Linked DNA regions of Homo sapiens. The protein of the gene in region 2 purifies or fractionates together with the protein of the main gene of each other region. This does not show direct contact. Each region holds a gene or a part of one and is shown on either strand. Other genes may lie near its edges.

Region 1 (2,907 bases), on a different chromosome or scaffold from region 2:
GCCAAGCTCAGGTAGAGGGGCTGGCTCTTCAGTACCAGGAAGATGGCAGGATGGAATGAGTGTGTGTGCAGCTAGATCGTGCAGGGACGTGAAGGTATTTCTCTCCAAAGGCTTCTGTTTCCCCCATCGAGTAGGAGACAAGGCCATCTGCTGAAAGGGACCCAGAGGTAGGGGACTGGACTCTGGGGCAACTTGAAAAGGTTTGAAGAAGTCTCTTAAGCCTCAGTTTCCTGGGTAAAATAACAGTATCTGTGTCATACAGTTCTGAGGATTAAAAGAGCTAATACTTGTCCAGAATTAGCCTTCGAGCCTCACGCATAACAGGTGCACAACGGATGCTCATGGTTACATGCCCCACGGAGTCATCAGCTGCCAACACTGAGGGCAGATGCTACTTGCCCGTGGTTAGCCTTTTAAGTGCCTTGATTCCTCATCCAATAGCCTGTTTTGGTACCATAGAACAAATTATAAAAAGTATTTTAGGGGCTGGGTGCCTGTAATCCCAGCATTTTGGGAGGCTGAGATGGGAGGATCGCTTGAGGCTAGGAGTTCAAGACCATCCTGGTCAACATGGTGAAACCCCATCTCTATTAAAAATAGAAAGAAAATTATTTTAAAATAAAATTAGGGACTCATTGTCAAGCCTCTCTTTTCTGTATTCTCAGGTTTTGATGGTACAGTCCAGGTCTATGATGCCACATCTTGGGATGGAACACGGAGCCAAGATGGAACACGGAGCCAAGTAGAACCTCTCTTCACTCACAGAGGTCACATCTTCCTAGATGGAAATGGGATGGACCCTGCTCCTTTGGTCACCACCCACACCTGGCATCCCTGCAGACCAAGGACTTTGTTATCAGCAACAAATGATGCCTCTCTGCATGTGTGGGACTGGGTGGACCTTTGTGCCCCCCGCTGACACCAGCATCTTTCCATCTAGGCCTCTAGAAAGGGGAGGAGCTGCTGTAGTAGCAAGGGTGCTCATGTAGGACTCAAGTGACTACCAGTCCCTGTTACCAGCTGTGTGGCCTTGGGCAAGTCTGCCAGCGTCACTTAGCCTCAGTTTCCTTATCTGTAAAATGAGGATAGTAAGAACTACCTCGTAGTGATATTGCGAAGGTTAGAAGAAACGCATGGCATAATTACTTGGTAGCTATTGTTAGATCTGGGAGTGTGAAATGGTAGCGTTTTGTCCCTGTCTTCACACTATCATAGGGAGAATCAAAAGAGCTAACAAATATAAACATGCTTTGTGAATTTTTTTAAAGAAAAAAATGTAGAGGGGCCAATAAACATGAAAAAATCCCAGCCCTAGTAGCAATTAAGGAAATAGCAAAACAGGATTTCTGCTCCTCTTGAGTGGGTCTCATGGGAACACAGGTGCACTTTCCCACACTTGTCCCCCCAGGTGACTAGGTTCAAGAGACATTTGCTTTTGGTGGCCCCACAAACATTTCCTTTTGAGGGCCCATAGTGAATATTAAAGTGTGCTGGACATGGTGGCTCATGCCTGTAATCCCAGCACTTTCAGAGGCTGAGGTGGGCAGATTGCTTGAGCTGAGGAGTTTGAGACCAGCCTGGGCAACATAGCAAGATCCCTTCCCTTAAAAAAAAAAAAAAATTTGGCTGGGCATGGTGGCTCATGCCTGTAATCCCAGCAATGTAGGCAGCCAAGACAGGTGGATCACTTGAGTCCAGGAGTTCGAGACTAGCCTGAGCAACATGGCGAAACCTTGTCTCTACTAAAAATACAAGTTAGCTGGTTGTGGTGGTATGAGCCTGCAGTCCCAGCTATTCAAGAGGCTGAGGTGGGAGGGTTGCCTGAGCCTGGCAGTTGAAGTTTGCAGTGAGCTGTGATCATGCCACTGTATTCCAGCCTGGGCAACAGAATGAGACCCTGTTACACACACACACACAAAATAGATAAGTTGTTCACTCTGTCAGCATCTATTAGCCCTTCCCATGTGCAACACTAATTACATGCTAGAAATACATAAATGAGAGGCTTCCTAAGGTGGTTGAATTTTTTTTTTTTTTTTTTTTGTAGTAGAGATGGAGTCTTGCTCTGTCACCCAGGCTTGAGTGCAGTGGCGTGATCTCGGCTCACTGCAACCTCCACCTCATGGGTTCAAGCAATGCTCCTGCCTCAGCCTGCCAAGTAGCTGGGATTACAGGCACGTACCACCATGCCCAGGTAATTTTTGTATTTTTGGTACAGACGGAGTTTCACCATGTTGGCCAGAATGGTCTTGATCTCTTGACCTTGTGATCTACCCACCTCGGCCTCCCGAAGAGCTGGGATTACAGGTGTGAGCCACCGCGCCCGGCCAGGGGATTTCTCCTGTGTGAATTCGCTGGTTAAGTGATAATTAACTGCAGTTAAAATTCAGGTCAAGCATGTGGCTCATGTCTGTAATCCCAGTACTTTGGGAGGCTGAGGTGGGAGGATAGCTTGAGTCCAGGAGGAGTTCGAGATCAGCCTGGGCACCATGGTGAACCCCTGTCTCTAAAAAAAAAGAAAGATTTTTATTTAAAAAACCTAAACAAATTCAGATAGGAATTTAAAGATAGACCAGGCACAGTGGCTCACGCCTGTAATCCCAGCACTTTGTGGGGGGCCAAGGTGGGTGGATCACTTGAGGTCAGGAGTTCAAGACCAGCCTGGCCAACATGGTGAAACCCCGTCTCTACTAAAAATATAAAAATTAGAGACGGGCATGGTGGTGGCACACCTGTAATCCCCACTACTCAGGAGGGTGAGGCAGGAGAATTGCTTGAACCTGAGAGGTAGAGGCTGCAGTGAACCGAGATTGTGCCACTGCATTCCAGCCTGGGTGACAGGGTGAGACTCCATCTCAAAAAAAATAAAATAAAGATAAAATCATAAACACTCATAATTCAGTTATA
Region 2 (2,726 bases):
TAAAGATCCCACTACACAGAAAGGCATGAAGACGAAAAGATTCGGGGTTGATTCAAATGGAAGAAAGCACAACTCACTTCACGGGTAACAATTTTTATTTGAAAACACAGGTTTCACAAGAAAATCATCTTTTTTTTTAAATTGTGACTTTTATCTTAACACTCTGTGAAGTACTCAAGGTCCAAGAAGCTTAATGGTCATTTGTCAAAATAGTAATTATCTAATTTTTTCCTATGAATTATGAAATTTTTTCAAAGCCGGAAATAAACCAATGGAAACAAATAAAAAGTACCTAGAATTTCCTCAATGGAATGCCTGCCCTTATTACCTTTGAGTCTGATGTATATGAATTTAAACCATTTTGTAAAATTGCAAATCCAATCACACTTAATACTTTAGGATTCCAAGCAAAGCTTGAAGCCTACAACATATTACAGGAATTATCTTTACTGACAACTGATGGAAACATCTCTAAAATAAGCTTTTGAAGTTAGTACATTAAGCCTAATTTAATATAAAGGCAATTTAATCTTACCTTCATATGAAAGAAAAATACACTGTCAGGATGAAGGATTTACTGAAGTTATAATTAACTGGAGATATATCACCAGTAAAAACCTAATTCCCTGTTATAATTAAATCAAAGCCTCATCAGGTTAGAGGGTGTGGAAGGGCGTGACCCAGTGGGAGGTGGGAATCTCACCAATAAAAGGCCCTCGTGTGCCCCTTCCCCACAAGACCTGAGCGCCCAGTGGAAGCAGCTGGAGGACAGAGGAGCTTCCAGCAGAAGAGGTGAGCCCATGCCTGTGTGTGTGTTTTTCCTCTTAGATGCCTAGAAATGGGGGTTATGACTTGGGGGGATGAATGAGAGAAATTCGTAATTAATGAATTCAACAAAGGCCGTCTGAGTGCTGCCTCAGAGTTGGAAACCAGTCACCCTGGATCCCCAGTCTAGGAGTGTAAGAGTGGTGGCAGTCAATTTGGTATTCACTTCCAAGGCTGGAGAAGGATGTAATTTTTTTTATTTTTTTATTTTTTTATTTTTTGGTGAGACGGGTCTTAACTCTGTTGTCCAGGTTGGAGTGACTTGGCGTGATCTCTGCTCTCTGCTAATTTTTGTATTATTTGTAGAGACAGGGTCTTCCTGTGTTGCCCAGACTGGTCTCAAACTCCTCGGTTCAAGGGATCTTCCTGCCTCGGCCTCGCAAAATGCTGGGATTACAGATGTGAGCTACTGCATCCAGCCCCTCTTTTTTTTTTTTTTTTTTTTTTTTGAGATGGTGTCTCACTCTGTTGCCCAGGCCAGAGTGCAATGGCAGGATCTCGGCTCACTGCAACCTCTGCCTCCCAGGTTCAAGTGATTCTCCTGCCTCAGCCTCCCAAGTATCTGGGATTACAGGCATGTGCCACCACGCCTGGCTAATTCTTTTGTATTTTCAGTAGAGATGGGGTTTCCCCATGTTGGTCAGGCTGGTCTCGAACTTTTGACGACCTCAGATGATCCACCCACCTTGGCCTCCCAAAGTGCTGGACAGGCATGAGCCATCGTGCCCGGCCTCCCAGCCCCTAATTCTTATGTTCATCAATCAGTCTCTTGCTGGGGTTCCCCTAGGAGGAGGTGAAATGACCCCAGCTCGCTGTTCCTCACATGGGTGCTGCCATGTCACTGGCTCAGGCTCAGCTGCTGGGTCACCAGGAGAATGGACGCTTCCTCCACCTCAGCTCAGAGCACAGTGATGATTCGTGACTTTCCCAATAGAACTTCAAATCTCTGAAGACGGGGGGTGGGGGGATGTGCTTGAGTGTTTGTACTCATGGTCTTATTCTCGGAGTGACAAAGCTGGAACACAATACCTCTATGCATGAAAAGGTTGTCACTTGTCACAACTAACAGGCTTTCACCTCATGGAAATTTTTTTACCTTGTGTACTTTTCCCCTGGCAGTGGACATGGCTGCACTCTTCCAAGAAGCAAGCAGCTGTCCCGTCTGCTCAGACTATCTGGAAAAACCAATGTCCCTGGAGTGTGGATGCGCCGTCTGCCTCAAGTGCATTAATTCACTGCAGAAGGAGCCCCATGGGGAGGATCTACTTTGCTGTTGCTCTTCCATGGTCTCTCGGAAGAACAAAATCAGGCGCAATCGGCAGCTAGAGAGGCTGGCTTCCCACATCAAGGAACTGGAGCCCAAGCTGAAGAAGATTCTGCAGATGAACCCAAGGATGCGGAAGTTCCAAGGTAAGGCATCTGTATACCCTGCCCCCTTCCCAAGACCAGACCAGGAAAAATCATTTGTGCAGTTGGCCCCTCATTCCACATGGGGATTAGCTGCTGTCTGGCACCTAAAATTGAGATGCTTCATCATCAGATTCTCAGCCCTGACAACATACAGAATCACCTGGTGATGTCAAAAACAAAAACAAACAAAAACCCGATGTCTATGTCATGGGTTAGACAAGGGATTCTCTAAACTTAGTGTGCTCAGATTACCTGGGGATCTTGTTAAAATGCAGATGCTGAACTGGGAAGTCTCAGGATTGATCCCACTGGCTTGGGGACTTTGCTGAGTAGCAAAAACATAGAGCAACTGAATTTGAATTTCTCTCTAGCAAAGGTTCCCAGGACTCTAACATTAAAATGGGCCTGGTAATTCTAATGCACGGTGAATATTGGCACCCATTGTACAAACAACCTTACCCCAGGGTTGGGAAGAGTTGGGAATGGAGCAC
Region 3 (3,658 bases), on a different chromosome or scaffold from region 2:
GGTGGAGAAAACCTTGGTTTGACTAGGTGGGTAAGAATGCTCATGTCAGGAGAACAGATGCTAAAGAAGAAATGCCAATTCTTACAACTTCCTTGAACTTGATTTCCTGTTGACCAATGGAGAAGGCAAGATCTGCTGGCTTTAGTTCAGCTGTGTGCATGCTATTTAAATCAATTACCAAAGTGCCAGACCACTTGCCAATAAAAAGACCTGGGTTTTTTTTTTTTTTTTTTTTTTTTTGCCACGTGTACCTGCTTGGTTCTTTATTCTTCAAATTTTGAGATTCTCAGGTCCATGACATACCTCTACATGCCCTAGTTTTAACACTTCTTTCCAGGAAAGGCTTCATTATGACAAATCCCTGTCTGGGATGACAAAGTGTTTCTTCCACAGAATATCCATTTCCTTTCCAGTCCTACCACTTCCCTTTATTTGGGATTTGGCAAGGTGTTTACTTGTCCTAGGGATGTCTTTCCCAGCTTCTCACACAACTTTGCCACACCACACTTATAAGCAGGTAAGCATTCCTATTAGTAAAATTAGTAAGATGGGCTTCAAGCACAACCTTAAACTGCCTTGATTCTACTGACATAATCTGTCCCCAAAGCATGGAATTTGGCAGAAACTGTTCTTGCTGTTCTGTCCATCCCTTTAGATTTCTCTCTATCAAAACCAATGGTTTTGTGATTCATGAGCAATGAAGCTTCCACCATGGGCTCCAGGAGTTCTGCTCCATTCGCTAATTCATCAAAGTGTCAGTCATCTGCCCTGTGCCTGAAAAAATGACGTGGGCAGACAGCAGTGACCTGCAAAGAAACATCTACCTTCAAGAGGTTTCCAGTCTTACATTGTTGATAAAACCCATAGAACCATGTACAGTTTGGGGTGGACTCTGGTGAAAGCTTATAGTCCAGTAGAGAAAAAAGACTGACTCCACACAGGCTTTGATGAGGGCCTTAAGAAAGAAACAGAAAGACTCAAGCTATACATGGGATTCTGTGCAAATGAGTCTGTGTGAATTTGTTCTCTGTCTATTCTTGGAGCAGAGAGGATGCACATGGATGGTAGACACTGTGCTAGGGAGCAGAAGACAGTCTAATGTGTACAGAATGCACTGATTTCAACTTTAGTTCAACATTATGCCAAACACAATTGAAGGTAAATGATTTCTGTGACCTACATGAATCATGGTTTGCACGTCAGACTTCTCTTGTTTTCTGTGCCTCGCCTCTTCCCTGCTTTTGTTTGCATTGCTTAATACTCAACAACGAGGTTTTGTTTTGTATTGTATTTTACTTCTCTTCCTTGAGACACGCCCTCCAAACACACACACCACAGTCTGTGTTGTGGAGACTGCCCTGTGCATTGTGGGGTGTTGAGCAGCATTGTCCTAGCAGCGCTGTAGGATGCTCAGTGGCCTCAATCCACTGCATGTCAATTGCACTCTCCGCCCCAGCTGTGATGACCAAAAATGTCTCCATATGTTGCCAAATGTCTTGTGGGGAAGCAAACTGCCCCCAGTTGAAAACTGCTTACTGTGTACTCAAATGGGACATGAGGTATGAACCAAAATAACAACTAGTACACTTACATAGACGTTCATAGTTTACAAGTCATACCAACCTTGTAAGATAGGACAGATGCATGATTATTCCCACTTTACAGATGAGAAAACTGAGGCTTAGAGAGGTTTAAAGGTCACAACCTACAAGTGGCAGAGCTAAGATATGAAAACTAGCAGTGTGATGTCAGGGGTAGAGCCCTCAACCACCAAAGCAGCCCTCTGCAGAGTGGCTGCAAACATGGAATGGGATCATGCCCATGAAGCACGCAGCACAGTGCCTGATGCAGAGAGGCAACCAACAAGCATATACATCATAATGTAAGACATCTGCTTTGTGATACTATGGATTTGGAATTCTAATGTCAAACCAACTTCAAAAGTGTTCTTTGAAGGCAAATGCTCCCTAGCTAGTTTCTGCTATGACCTGGTCTCCTCTCCTCTCCTCTCCACCATCCTGGGCAACACCCCTGTTTTCTCACCTCAGTGATAATGGCCTTGTGCTGTTTAATCCTCTTCAGCTCTTCTTCACAGCTCATGATGTAAGATCTGGACAGAGGCAGCGGCTTTCCATTTCGACAGAGAACTGTTTGGCACTTGCCCACATTAGCAGAGGTCAAGGTGAAGGATCCTCCTGGATCCACAGGGTCATGCTTGATATGACAAAGGACAGCGGCACCACCAAGCTTCTGCCCAGCAGTTCCAAGTTTCCTGGAATCCGAAGAGAGGGGGTGACACTCAAACACAGCCCATCAGTGCCAGTTCTGCAAATTCAACAGCAAGACCGCACCACTGGACAGGGCCAGGAAGGAGACAGCTGGGGATTCCACTCCGCCTCCTTCATCAAAGCACACACTGCTCTGCCTCTTTGATGAAAAGAGCCCCTGAATCTGACATCACACACATCCACACAGAGAGGCTCACAACTGGAAGACAGTATCACTGTACCATTAAAAGCCACAGGTGCTGCTCTGGAAGGCGGGTGCCCCTGGGCTGCTGTGTACAGCCTGCTACCCTCATCAACCACACTGCCCTATCAGCACACTCCAAAGACAGCAGGAAAATGACTTCTTTCTCCATCTGCTTCTCTAAATCCCCTCTGTCCCCAGGAAAGGAACATTGAAAAAACCATGTATGTAAGAGCAGGTATAAACACCCTACCCCACTGACAGGCACACTTTAGAAAAACCTGACAACCCTCTCCCCCTTATAAGGGTGTTTGCTGGTAGCAGCCTTGAAGTATTGGAGTGTTCATGTTCCTGCCCTATATAGTAAAGACTTTCTGGACCAGCACCATCTATTCTAGAAAACTCATAGAAAGGACATTCTAGTAATCAAATACCAAGTGCTTGTGATTTATCTTTTTAATCATGAGAATCCACAGACCTACCAAATACAGAAAGCACCTGCAAATTCTGAAAATCAAAAATCAAAAACCCCTCTTACAAAGCTACTTGTTCTGGCAGATTATCAAGGGAGAGAAATGGCAGAGACGGACAAAAGACCATTATTGCTCCCATGGCCTCATGAACAACTATGGCAAGCCCCACAAATGGTAACACTGCCCAGGCCCCTGCTGTTCCTGAGTGGTACAGGAGCAAGAAAGTTAAGAAAAACAGCCTCCCGTTTTACAAGGGCAGACCCTCAGGTACTGTCTGCTCCTATCACGTGTGTAAGGTAAGCAACTGGCAAGAAGAGCAATGGAAACCAGGGCTGCCTACTTGCATGCATTAGGAAATCCCGCACAAAGACCAGTTCCCCTAAGGACCAAAAGCTCACCACACAACCCGTACCCTCTTAACAGATAGGGAAAATAAGAGACATACAAAAGACCCTGGAGAAGGGCCTATAGTTTAGGTTCCTAAACTCCAACTTTCAGATATTTGGCTCTAGACCCTTCCAAGGCATCTCTACTTTCTCCCTTTCACAGGCACAGTGATTTGTAAAAAGTATAGCAAGTAATCCGAGACTGGGGTTCTCAGTTTTTAATTCTTACCCAGTGCTTGAGGGTGCATAAAAAGCAGACCTTTTGGGGGTTGTGAAGGGATGTGTTTGTGCTGTGGTCTGTATGCACATGTGTATGTGTGTGCATATGAT

Evidence for each region.
Region 1: the proteins of RFPL2 (region 2) and WDR73 purify together in Homo sapiens (affinity purification with mass spectrometry; 3 studies listed by BioGRID and IntAct, with this or other methods). This does not show direct contact.
Region 3: the proteins of RFPL2 (region 2) and PHLPP1 purify together in Homo sapiens (affinity purification with mass spectrometry; 3 studies listed by BioGRID and IntAct, with this or other methods). This does not show direct contact.

What each region holds. Positions count from the first base shown.
Region 1 is NC_000015.10:84,641,482-84,644,388, reverse strand, and holds part of WDR73 (integrator complex assembly factor WDR73), read left to right. Parts: intron 1-665; coding exon 666-919; 3' UTR 920-2,907. UniProt on the Homo sapiens protein: Component of a multiprotein complex required for the assembly of the RNA endonuclease module of the integrator complex. Associates with INTS9 and INTS11 in the cytoplasm, stabilizing the INTS9-INTS11 heterodimer and blocking the active site of INTS11.
Region 2 is NC_000022.11:32,192,411-32,195,136, reverse strand, and holds part of RFPL2 (ret finger protein-like 2), read left to right. Parts: intron 1-646; coding exon 647-792; intron 793-1,944; coding exon 1,945-2,235; intron 2,236-2,726.
Region 3 is NC_000018.10:62,974,011-62,977,668, reverse strand, and holds part of PHLPP1 (PH domain leucine-rich repeat-containing protein phosphatase 1), read right to left. Parts: intron 2,273-3,658; coding exon 2,044-2,272; intron 1-2,043. UniProt on the Homo sapiens protein: Protein phosphatase involved in regulation of Akt and PKC signaling.